Linked DNA regions of Homo sapiens. The protein of the gene in region 1 purifies or fractionates together with the protein of each later gene. This does not show direct contact. Each region holds a gene or a part of one and is shown on either strand. Other genes may lie near its edges.

Evidence for each region. Proteins that work in one complex are often made in the same cells at the same time.
Region 2: the proteins of SIN3B (region 1) and SMARCA1 purify together in Homo sapiens (affinity purification with mass spectrometry, with the first as the bait; one large-scale study listed by BioGRID). This does not show direct contact.

What each region holds. Positions count from the first base shown.
Region 1 is NC_000019.10:16,866,395-16,871,670, forward strand, and holds part of SIN3B (paired amphipathic helix protein Sin3b), read left to right. Parts: coding exon 1-162; intron 163-3,065; coding exon 3,066-3,681; intron 3,682-4,834; coding exon 4,835-5,004; intron 5,005-5,276.
Region 2 is NC_000023.11:129,512,930-129,518,205, reverse strand, and holds part of SMARCA1 (SWI/SNF-related matrix-associated actin-dependent regulator of chromatin subfamily A member 1), read left to right. Parts: intron 1-1,708; coding exon 1,709-1,875; intron 1,876-2,211; coding exon 2,212-2,312; intron 2,313-2,418; coding exon 2,419-2,519; intron 2,520-5,276.

The sequences.
Region 1 (5,276 bases):
TGGCGGGAGGCCCAGCAGGGCTTCAACAAGATCTGGCGGGAGCAGTATGAGAAGGCGTACCTCAAGTCCCTTGACCACCAGGCTGTGAACTTCAAGCAGAACGACACCAAGGCCCTGCGCTCCAAGAGCTTGCTCAACGAGATCGAGAGCGTCTACGACGAGGTAAAGCCTTCCCTAGCCCTGCCGGCCGGTGGGGGTGGGGTCCTGGCTCTCCCGACCGCCGGGTCTGTGCCTCTGTTTCCCTGGTGGTTAGGCAGGGTAGTGGCATTGCCCTTTCAGGGCTGTGTTGAGGCGAGGGTTCATGTCTCTGTGATGCCCAGCCTGTGGCCTGCCCTAGGAGAACCAGCAACTCTGCCATTGTCTATCTGTTTGTTTGTTTGGAGACAGAGTCTCGCTGTGTTACACAGGCTGGAGTGCAGTGGTGTGATCTCAGCTCACTGTAACCTCAGCCTCCTGGGTTCAAGTGATTCTTCTGCCTCAGCCTCCTGAGTGGCTGGGACTACAGGCGCACACCACCACACCCAGCTAATTTTTATATTTTTAGTAGAGATGGGTTTTCACCATGTTGGCCAGGCTGGTCTTGAACTCCTGACCTCGTGATCCACCCACCTCAGCCTCCCAAAGTGCTGGGATTACATGCGTAAGCCACCGCTCCTGGCCGACTCTGCCATTGTCTAGCGAAGTCTCCGTCCCTCCCGTGGGGCAGTGATGGACTTTGGCTTAGGTAGTGGGTGGCAGCAGCCTTCATTTCTTTCTTGCCGACTGTGCCAGGCACCGGTGTTAGCAACACAGAAAGAGTAATGCATCATCTGACCTCACTCCTGAACCTGACTCTGCTGCGGCATTATTCTGATTTTACCAGTGGGGAAACTGAGGCACAAGAGGTTGCATTTGCCTGGGCTGGTCGCAGGGGGCCAGGGCTCTGAGTCATTGGGTTCGAGGCTTTCGGCTGCATGTCCTCACTGCAGGCTCACAAGGCCTGAGTCATAGAACCAAGGCCAGCGGGGCCCTCAGGTTGCCAGGAGCTGGGCCTGTTAGTAGCTGTGTGTAGGGAGTGCCTGCTTGCAGGATCCTGAGGTGGGAAGCTTGGCAGGGTGCCGGGCGTGGTGATAGCCAGCTGTCGGGAAGGTCCTTGGACACTCTGAGGAGGTGGCTTAGGAGGGCACACTACTCCCCAGGCAGTGCCCAGATCATGGCACGGGCTGCGTTATCAGCCTGGTGCCCACCTGGGCAGGGGGTGTTGCCTCACCTGATTTGGTTTCTTGCTCCTGTCACTGCACAGTGAGCGGTCGCTCCTTCTTTTACAACACAGAAACGGAATCCACAGGAGCCGGGCTGCTGGCCCAAGGCCTCTCCCAGAGCCTGTGGGACTGTGGGGACCCCCTTCCCTCCCACCTCCCTTCCCGTGGGCCACCCTCGCCCCAGGCCCACCCACAACCACTCTGGCTTCCTCACTCTAGTCCTCGGCGATCCTCAAGCCCAAGACCCCGTATAGGTTCTGTGGGTCTGTGGTGTCTGCAAAGTGCAGATGATGAAGTAGCCCTGGAAATCCACCAATGCGACCCTGAGTTCCTGGATCCCTCCCTGGGGCTGGGGCTGACAAAGGGAGGGGCACCAAGGTTCATATGCAGATCTCTGCACATGCAGGTCCTTGATGAATTCCAAAGTCAGAACCCCATTCCATCACGTGATTTACAAAGCATGGTTACAGATCATGGACATGGGGACCCTGCTTCAGAGGGGACTGTAAAGGAATTTTCAGAGTGTTTATGGCATAAATGAGACCTGGGGGACTTAGGAAGCAGTCAGAGGGCGATGGTCACACTGAAGAGCCCAGAGCAGGGCTGAGCGTGCAGACTCCTAGGAACCAGGTCAGTGTGCTTGGCCCTACCAGCCTCTAAGCCGCCTTGCAGGGGAGGAGGAAGGGAAACCTCAGGCTGCTAGGAGACCCGGTCCTTCCCTCGGGAGCCTGCAGAGATGGCATCCACGCTCATTTTCCCCAAGAGCCCTGCTGCGTCTGCCTCCCTGCCTTGGACTGAGGGGGTTGGGGCTGCCCAGCAGAGGCCCTGGGTGCCAGGACAGTGGTGTGGGAGGCTGGAGGAAGGGGTGATTGTCTAATGGTGTGAGGGAATGAAAGTCATGATCTAGATAAAGACCAAGGGGAGGGGTGAGCCTGGGACAGGGTTTTCCAGGGAGTGAGAGCAGATGGGCATGTGCAAAGGCCCTGCACACGCAGGAGGGAGCTTGGCGCGGTGAGGCTGGAGGAGCTGTGGAGGGGCACATCAGGGGCCGGCGTCTTCTGAGCAGCCTGGGAAAGCCTGAAGGGCATTAGTTGGGGTGACCATGCTCCTGTGGGCCAAGTCACCCTGGACCCAGTGAGGAGAGTGGTTGGAGCAGGCTGGTGGGAGCTGGTGGGAGGGCTGGTGACATGATGGTGGTAGCAAGCACGTGCAGGGGCTGGCGGGGACAGCAGCGGAGGCGGGGGCTTGGTGACGATGGGCGTGCAGGTCTTCAGATGTGAGCAGTTGCAGGCCTTCCGGGTAGTAGATGGAGGGCAGAGGCAGAGAGGTCACGGCTCACCCTTTGCCTCCTTGACTTCATCGATAGCATGGTGTGGGCAGCCCCGGTCGAGCTGGAATCAGGCGCCACCGTTGCTTTCAGTAGGAGGAGGTCAGCCTCAGAGGCTTCTCCATGCTGAGCCACGGGGCCCCGTTCTGTCCTGGAGCTGGGCTGAGCGACAGACCCAGGCTTGACGCTGTCAGACCCCCTGTGAACCCCGCCCCACATCTCAGAATCCTCTTGGCTCCTTTGTCTGGGGTCCCGGGATGACTTGGGTCTGCCTCACTTTCGGAGAGGGGACCAGGAGCACATGGGGCTGCACAAGAGGTTGAGGCAAGCGACCTACCCCCCAGGCCCTGCTGCCTCACCGATGTTCGCCACCCATCCTGCTCTGGGCAGCGCTCATCCACCTTGGTGGCCCAGTTAACAGCGAGTCGTGAATGGGCACTGGGGGTCCTCTGGGTGCTGGGTGGCTTTCCACCTAATGGCCGCCCTTCCCCCCACAGCACCAGGAGCAGCACTCGGAGGGCCGCAGTGCCCCCTCTAGCGAGCCGCACCTCATCTTTGTGTACGAGGACCGGCAGATCCTGGAGGACGCAGCAGCGCTCATCAGCTACTACGTGAAGCGGCAGCCGGCCATCCAGAAGGAGGACCAGGGCACCATCCACCAGCTGCTGCACCAGTTCGTGCCCAGCCTCTTCTTCTCTCAGCAGCTGGACCTGGGCGCCTCCGAGGAGTCAGCTGATGAGGACCGGGACAGCCCCCAGGGGCAGACCACAGACCCCAGTGAGCGGAAGAAGCCGGCGCCAGGACCCCACAGTAGCCCCCCAGAGGAGAAGGGGGCCTTCGGGGATGCCCCGGCCACTGAGCAGCCACCCCTGCCGCCCCCAGCCCCGCACAAGCCCCTGGACGATGTCTACAGCCTATTTTTTGCCAACAACAACTGGTACTTCTTCCTGCGCCTGCACCAGACCCTGTGCTCCAGGCTGCTGAAGATCTACCGCCAGGCGCAGAAGCAGCTTCTGGAGTATCGGACCGAGAAGGAGCGGGAGAAGCTGCTGTGTGAGGGCCGCAGGGAGAAGGGCAGCGACCCCGCCATGGAGCTGCGGCTGAAGCAGCCCAGTAAGGCTCCAAAGCCTGCCGGGAGGCCCCGGGGGGTGCCTGGGGTTAGGGGTCACAGCTCATGATCTGACATGTCCTGTTACTTTTCTTTCTGGCTTTTCATTTTAAGAGAATTCTGTGATTTCAAATGGGAAATTGCAAACAGGAAGTTGCCAGCATAAGACAGAGGTCTCACGTACCCCTCGCCCAGGCTCCCCTGGCCGTGGCACCTGTCCTGGGTGTAGCACCCTCTCCTGACTGGGGAACATTTGTTTCTCATGGGCTTTCTCGTGGAGCCGTCATGGCCCAGCTCCACAGTACCCTTTTTCTTTCTTTTTTTTTTTTTTTGAGATGGAGTCTTGCGCTGTTGCGCAGGCTGGAGTATAGTGGCAGGATCTCGGCCCACTGCAACCTCCACTTCCCAGGTTCAAGTGATTCTCCTGCCTTAGCCTCCCAAGTAGCTGGGATTACAGGCGCTCACCACCATGCCTGGCTCATTTTTTGTATTTCTTTTTTGAAATGGAGTCTTGCTCTATTGCCCAGCCTGGAGCACAGTGGCATGATCTCGGCTCACTGCAGCCTCCGCCTCCCAGGTTCAAGCAATTCTCTGCCTCAGCCTCTGAGTAGCTGGGATTACAGGCACCCACCACCATGTCCGGTTATTTTTTTTTTGTATTTTTAGTGGAGACGAGGTTTCACCATCTTGACCAGGCTGGTCTTAAAACTCCTGACCTTGTGATCCACCTGCCTCGGGCTTCCAAAGTGATGGGATTACAGGCATGAGCCACCGCGCCCAGCCCAATTTTTTGTATTTTTAATAGAGACAGGATTTCACCATGTTGGCCAACCTGGTCTCAAACTCCTGAACTCAGGTGATCCGCCTGCCTCAGCCTCCCCAAGTGCTGGGATTACAGGCATGGGCCACCATGCCTGGCCTCCACAGCATTCTCGCTGCCATCCCTGGGTTGCCGGCCAGATTAGGCAGCCTCGGAGGGTGGCAGTGAACACCAGCTACTCGGGTTTCCTGGTGATTCCCACATTTGCCCCAGGGGTGGCAGGTGAGGGCTGTTGGGCCCCATGGGGGCATTTGTTGGGGCTCTGTCATGCCAGAGTTTGGCCTGCGTGACTTTGCGCTCTCCAGGAGGCATATGGATGAGGCGGTGTGTCTCCGCAGGTGAAGTGGAGCTGGAGGAGTACTACCCGGCCTTCCTGGACATGGTGCGGAGCCTGCTGGAGGGCAGCATCGACCCCACGCAGTACGAGGACACCCTACGCGAGATGTTCACCATCCATGCCTACGTGGGCTTCACCATGGACAAGCTGGTGCAGAACATTGCGCGGCAGGTGAGCCGGGCCGGGGTGGGGCCGGCCCTGAGGACGGCGGAAATGGCTCTACCATCATTTCACTCCCCGCTCGGGAGGGGGCCCGTGGTCAGCACAGCAAACCTATCCTGTTTTTTCTTAATTGAGACAAAATTCGCATAACGTAAAATTAACCATTTTGAAGTGTACAGTTTGGTAACATTTGGTACATTCACAATATTGTGCAACCACCACCTCTGTCTAGTTCCAGAACATTTCATCTTTCCAAAAGGAGACCCCATCCCCATCAGCAG
Region 2 (5,276 bases), on another chromosome or scaffold:
CTGTTGAATAAATTAACCTCCTCATTTTCAGATGAGGAAATAAAGGATCAGGGAAGCTATATGTCATAGTTAGGACTAGAAGTCACATCTCATTTTGGTTCGGTGCTCTCTGTCCCATAATAAAGTGCTTTAAGCTAGAAATATTTATTTATGAGGTGAAAATATCAGTGGTAATACCACTGTGGCTTTGTGACCTGAGAGAAATCCAGTCACAAAGCCAGATTGACGTATTTTTGTTTCTTTCTCCTTCTTTGGACATATGAATAAATGCTACACATTAATGAAATGTGTAATATGTCAATACACTTTAAAGGGAAGAATATTTGTCCAATGCATGAAGATATCACATATTTAAGCAGCATAATCTTAGTTATACTTACATATTGCTTGCTATAATACATTTAATTATTTAATTTTTAGTTACTAAAATACATATTTTAGCTTTAATTTTAACTAAACTCTTATAACCTTGGATCTTTCAAGAATTTAACAGGTGGTTGAAATGGATTTTTTTTTCCTCTGAGGGGTTGTTTTTGCAGTAATATTATAAAAATAAGTATAGATGAAATATATTTTTTGGTTGTTGATAGCTATTTTATAAGACTTAATGTTTAAGGCCACATCTAATGTAGGTAGGCAATGTTTTAACAACTCTAAAAATAACATTCCAGTGAGGATAATATAAAATGGAAAGTTTTTGGCCTCCTTCCAGCTTGTAGTCTGAATTTATCTAACTCTTATGTTTATGTTAATGAACTCTTCTGTAAGTTTTCTGGGTTATTAATTATGCATCCTTCATTAGCAATCAAGTATTCTCTACTCTGTGGTTGGAAAGTGACTTTGAATAAATAAATAGTCTTTATTTTTTCCTTTATCTAGAATGATGTATATATCTTTTGATCTTTTAAGATTTTTTTAGTGAAACAAAGTTTTATTGCCTGTATATGGTACACGTTCCCTGACCTTTTACAATTTATTGAGAAATTAGAATACATATCAACTTTTAATAGTTAATAAACTATTTCACATATATGTGCATATGTTTATATATTTTTCCCAAATTCTGCTTACTTTGGGGAGAAAGTTTATACGCTACTAGCACAAAATACAGTTTTCTAGATCCCTGTGAGTGAAGAGAGGAGTGTTTATTACATTACTATACCATGACACTGAAAATATTTTGAGACAAGATGATACTGTATTTTAAGATTTAAGTTATTTCTGGATACAACTTGGAAATTCTTAAGAGTTCAGTTTATGGTATATATATCATAGTTAATTTATATTTCAATATTTGGGATATGTTATATATTTGATGCTTAATTTTGTTACTATTTTATTTAATAAAATGATGTTTTGGAAAGAGGATTTGCTTTATGATTATGACTCTTTAAGAAGGGTATTTCTTATTGGGGAATTTACTGTCTGTCAGATAATTTTTCTTCCCTTCAAACTATTTGAAAATACATTTTCAAATTCTGCTGCTTATTAGCTGTGCAAGGTTGGGCAAATTACTTACCCTCTCTGTGCTTCAGTATCATGTAGTTACAATGGAGATGATACTTGTAATTACGTCATAGGTTTCTTAAGAGAATTGAATGGATTAATGTTTCAAGTGCTAAGAATGTTGTTCAAAGTAAGTATTTGTTAAATAACTTTGAAGGAATGAAAAGGAAAGTCCTTACTTTTCTTTTGTTTTGCAAATTAGAAAGCCGACCGAGCAAAGAGATTTGAATTTTTACTGAAGCAGACAGAACTTTTTGCACATTTCATTCAGCCTTCAGCACAGAAATCTCCAACATCTCCACTGAACATGAAATTGGGACGTCCCCGAATAAAGAAAGATGAAAAGCAGAGCTTAATTTCTGCTGGAGAGTATGTTGGCACCTCTCTCTCTACTTTCTTTCCTTTCTCCTACCTTTTCTTCCTCCTGTCCTCCCTTGATCCCTTCATGCACCCCTTCGCTCTTCATTGTTCAGTATACCTTCATGTGACAAAAAATATTGCCATTATAATTATGTTTTGAAGACAACTATATTTTTTTCTCACTAGAGGCTGATCAGTAAAAATGTAGGCTGGTTCTACTGATTTCTAAGCAAGACCTTGGACAACTCATTCTTTTTCTATAAAAGATAATAGCCATGTACACTGATTTAATTGATACCTTATCATTTAGGTCGAATATGAAGGGATTTCCTTTTTTAATTTCAGCTACCGCCATAGGCGCACAGAGCAAGAAGAAGATGAAGAGCTACTGTCTGAGAGTCGGAAAACATCTAATGTGTGTATTAGATTTGAGGTGTCACCTTCATGTAAGTACTTCATCACATTGGTGAGTTCTTTTTCAATTTAGTTTTAGAAAAATTTTACTTGAGTATGTTAATGAAAGTATGAAATGTCCTTGCATTTTTTCACCAGATGTGAAAGGGGGGCCACTGAGAGATTATCAGATTCGAGGACTGAATTGGTTGATCTCTTTATATGAAAATGGAGTCAATGGCATTTTGGCTGATGAAATGGTAAGGAATTGGTAGCTAAAAACACATTCTCAGTTATCAATGATTTTTATGTAAATTTGAAAAACCTGAGCTTACCTGCCCCCCTGATGCCTGGAGGCTTTTTAAAAGTTGTTATCATGTAAAAGGTATTTTGTAGTCTTAGAATTATTATTATTTTTTTGAGAGAGGATCTCTTTGTGTTTCCAGGCTTGAGTGCAGTGGTGCAATCTCGGCTCACTGTACCCTCGACTTCCTGGGTTCAAGCGATCCTCCTGCCTCAGCCTCCTGAGTAGCTGCGACTCCAGGCACGTGCCCACCACACTGGGCTAATTTTTATTTTTATTTTTAGTAGAGACAGGTCTCGCCACGTCACCCACACTGATTTTGAACTCCTGGGCTCAAGCAGTCCTCCCACCTCGACCTCCCGAAGTGTTGGGATTACAGGTGTGAGCCACAGCACCCAGCTAGAATTGTTTCGTTAAGTCACCGCTAGAACACAGACTTTCACAGGCCATAAAACTCTTACTGAGCTTTCCTCAAATGGTCCAAAAACCTTCTCTGTACTTTTGTTTTTGTTTGCATTTTGGCTTCCAGGAAGCACAGAGTCAAGATGGATGCCCAAATGATGCCTTTATGTAACTTTTTTTTTAAAATTTTTTGAGATGGAGTCTCGCTCTGTCACCCAGACTGGAGTGCAGTGGCACGATCTCAGCTCACTGCCACCTCCACCTCCCAGGTTCAAGCAATTCTCTGTCTCAGTCTCCTGAATAGCTGGGGTTACAGGCGCCTGCCACCACGTCCGGCTAATTTTTTTGTATTTTTAGTAGAGATGGGGTTTCACCGTTTTGGCCAGGCTGGTCTTGAACTCCTGACCTTGTGATCCACCTGCTTCGGCCTCCCAGAGTGCTGGGATTACAGGTGTGAGCCACCCCCACCCTGGCCTTATGTAACCTTTAATGGTCTGCCCTGTGTGTCCTTCTGTCTTTTCCTATTCTTTATCTACTTGTCTTTCTTACTTTCCTTGTCGTCTCTTTATTTCTATTTTGCCATTAATTTATGTTCCATGTTTTCATTGTAGGCTACCTGAAATCCTTTTGGGAATAAGGTGGGGTATACAAACCAAACAATATGTAAATGACTGCCTGAATATATGCATGTGTGAATGATTATCAATATTTTGACTTGTGAACAATCAAAAAGTGCATAGGTGGAATAAGGAACGAATAAAGAGTAATGTTGAATCTTGATACAGTACAGTGCATGGTGGGGCTTTGGAAATCAGTGAAGGAGTTATAAATGTGTAAATAAAATAACTGAACAGGAAAAAGTAAGGCATATAAGATGCTAATTCATCAGCTAAAGGGGGAATACATGAAGGCTTTTTTTTTTTTGAGACGGAGTCTCGCTCTGTCGCCCAGGCTGGAGTGCAGTGGCATGATCTCGGCTCACTGCAATCTCCTCCTTCTGGGTTCATGCCATTCTCCTGCCTCAGCCTCCCGAGTAGCTGGGACTACAGGCGCCCGCCACCGCGCCCAGCTAATTTTTTGTATTTTTTTAGTAGAGACGGGGTTTCACGATGGTCTCGATCTCCTGACCTCGTGATCCTCCCGCCTTGGCCTCCCAAAGTGCTGGGATTACAGGCGTGAGCCACTGTGCCTGGCCCCATATTTGTATTTTAAGACCAAATTAATAAAATGCGATTTAAGAGAGGGCAGGGAAAGTTCTAAATCCATATAACTCAATGATACTCATATTTATGTGACTCTGAAACCATACTTGTAATCACTATTATCCAGAAGAGCCACATGATGATACGTGCCCTATGGCGTCTAGTATAGTTGGTAGTCAGTCGCATAAGTACTCATCCCTGGTTGAGCAACTGTTAGGTGTGTGGCAGAGGATCCCTTAAAGCAAGGGTCTGTAGCTCCTTATATTTAGGTATTCTAGTTTGAAGACTGTTGTCAGCTCAGAGGGGGAGGAGCTTGGTTAATTGGACAATGGAAGGACCAGGATTATTTGCCCCAAGCAGCTCTTGGCTTCAGCCTGTCTAAACATGAAGGATCTGATCTTTAGTGATGAATTTGTGCTGATATCAGATATATGTATTATATATATAATATATAATATATAAATATATATAATATATACTTACTTTTTTTAATATATATATATAATTTTTTTTTGAGATGGAGTTTTGCTCTTGTTGTCCAGGCTGGAGTGCAATGGCGTGATCATTGCTTACTGCAACCTCCACCTCCCGGGTTCAAGCGGTTCTCCTCCCCCAGCCTCCCAGGTAGCTGGGATTACAGGCGCCCACCACCACGCCTGGCTAATTTTGTATTTTTAGTAGAGATGGGGTTTCACCATGTTGGTCAGGCTGTTCTCAAACTCCTGACTTCAGGTGATCCATCTGCCTCGGTCTCCCAAAGTGCTGGGATTACAGGTGTGAGCCACTGCACCCAGCCGATACCAGATATGTTTTAATTACTAAAAAATAGACACTTTTAAGGAGTATAGAAAATTTGGAAAAAAATGAATAATTAAAATTAAGTTATAATTCTGCTACTTAGAAGTAACCACAGCTAACATTTTGGCATATTTCATTTTAGTCTTTTTCTTCTGGATGTACTTATTTTGTATAGTTGAAATCATATTGTATATATAATTTGGCATTCTGATTTATTTACATTCATACATATGTTCCATGTAATTAAGACATTTTCCGAACATAATTAATTATTGCATAATAATCCTTGGGCGGTACCATAATTTTATTCA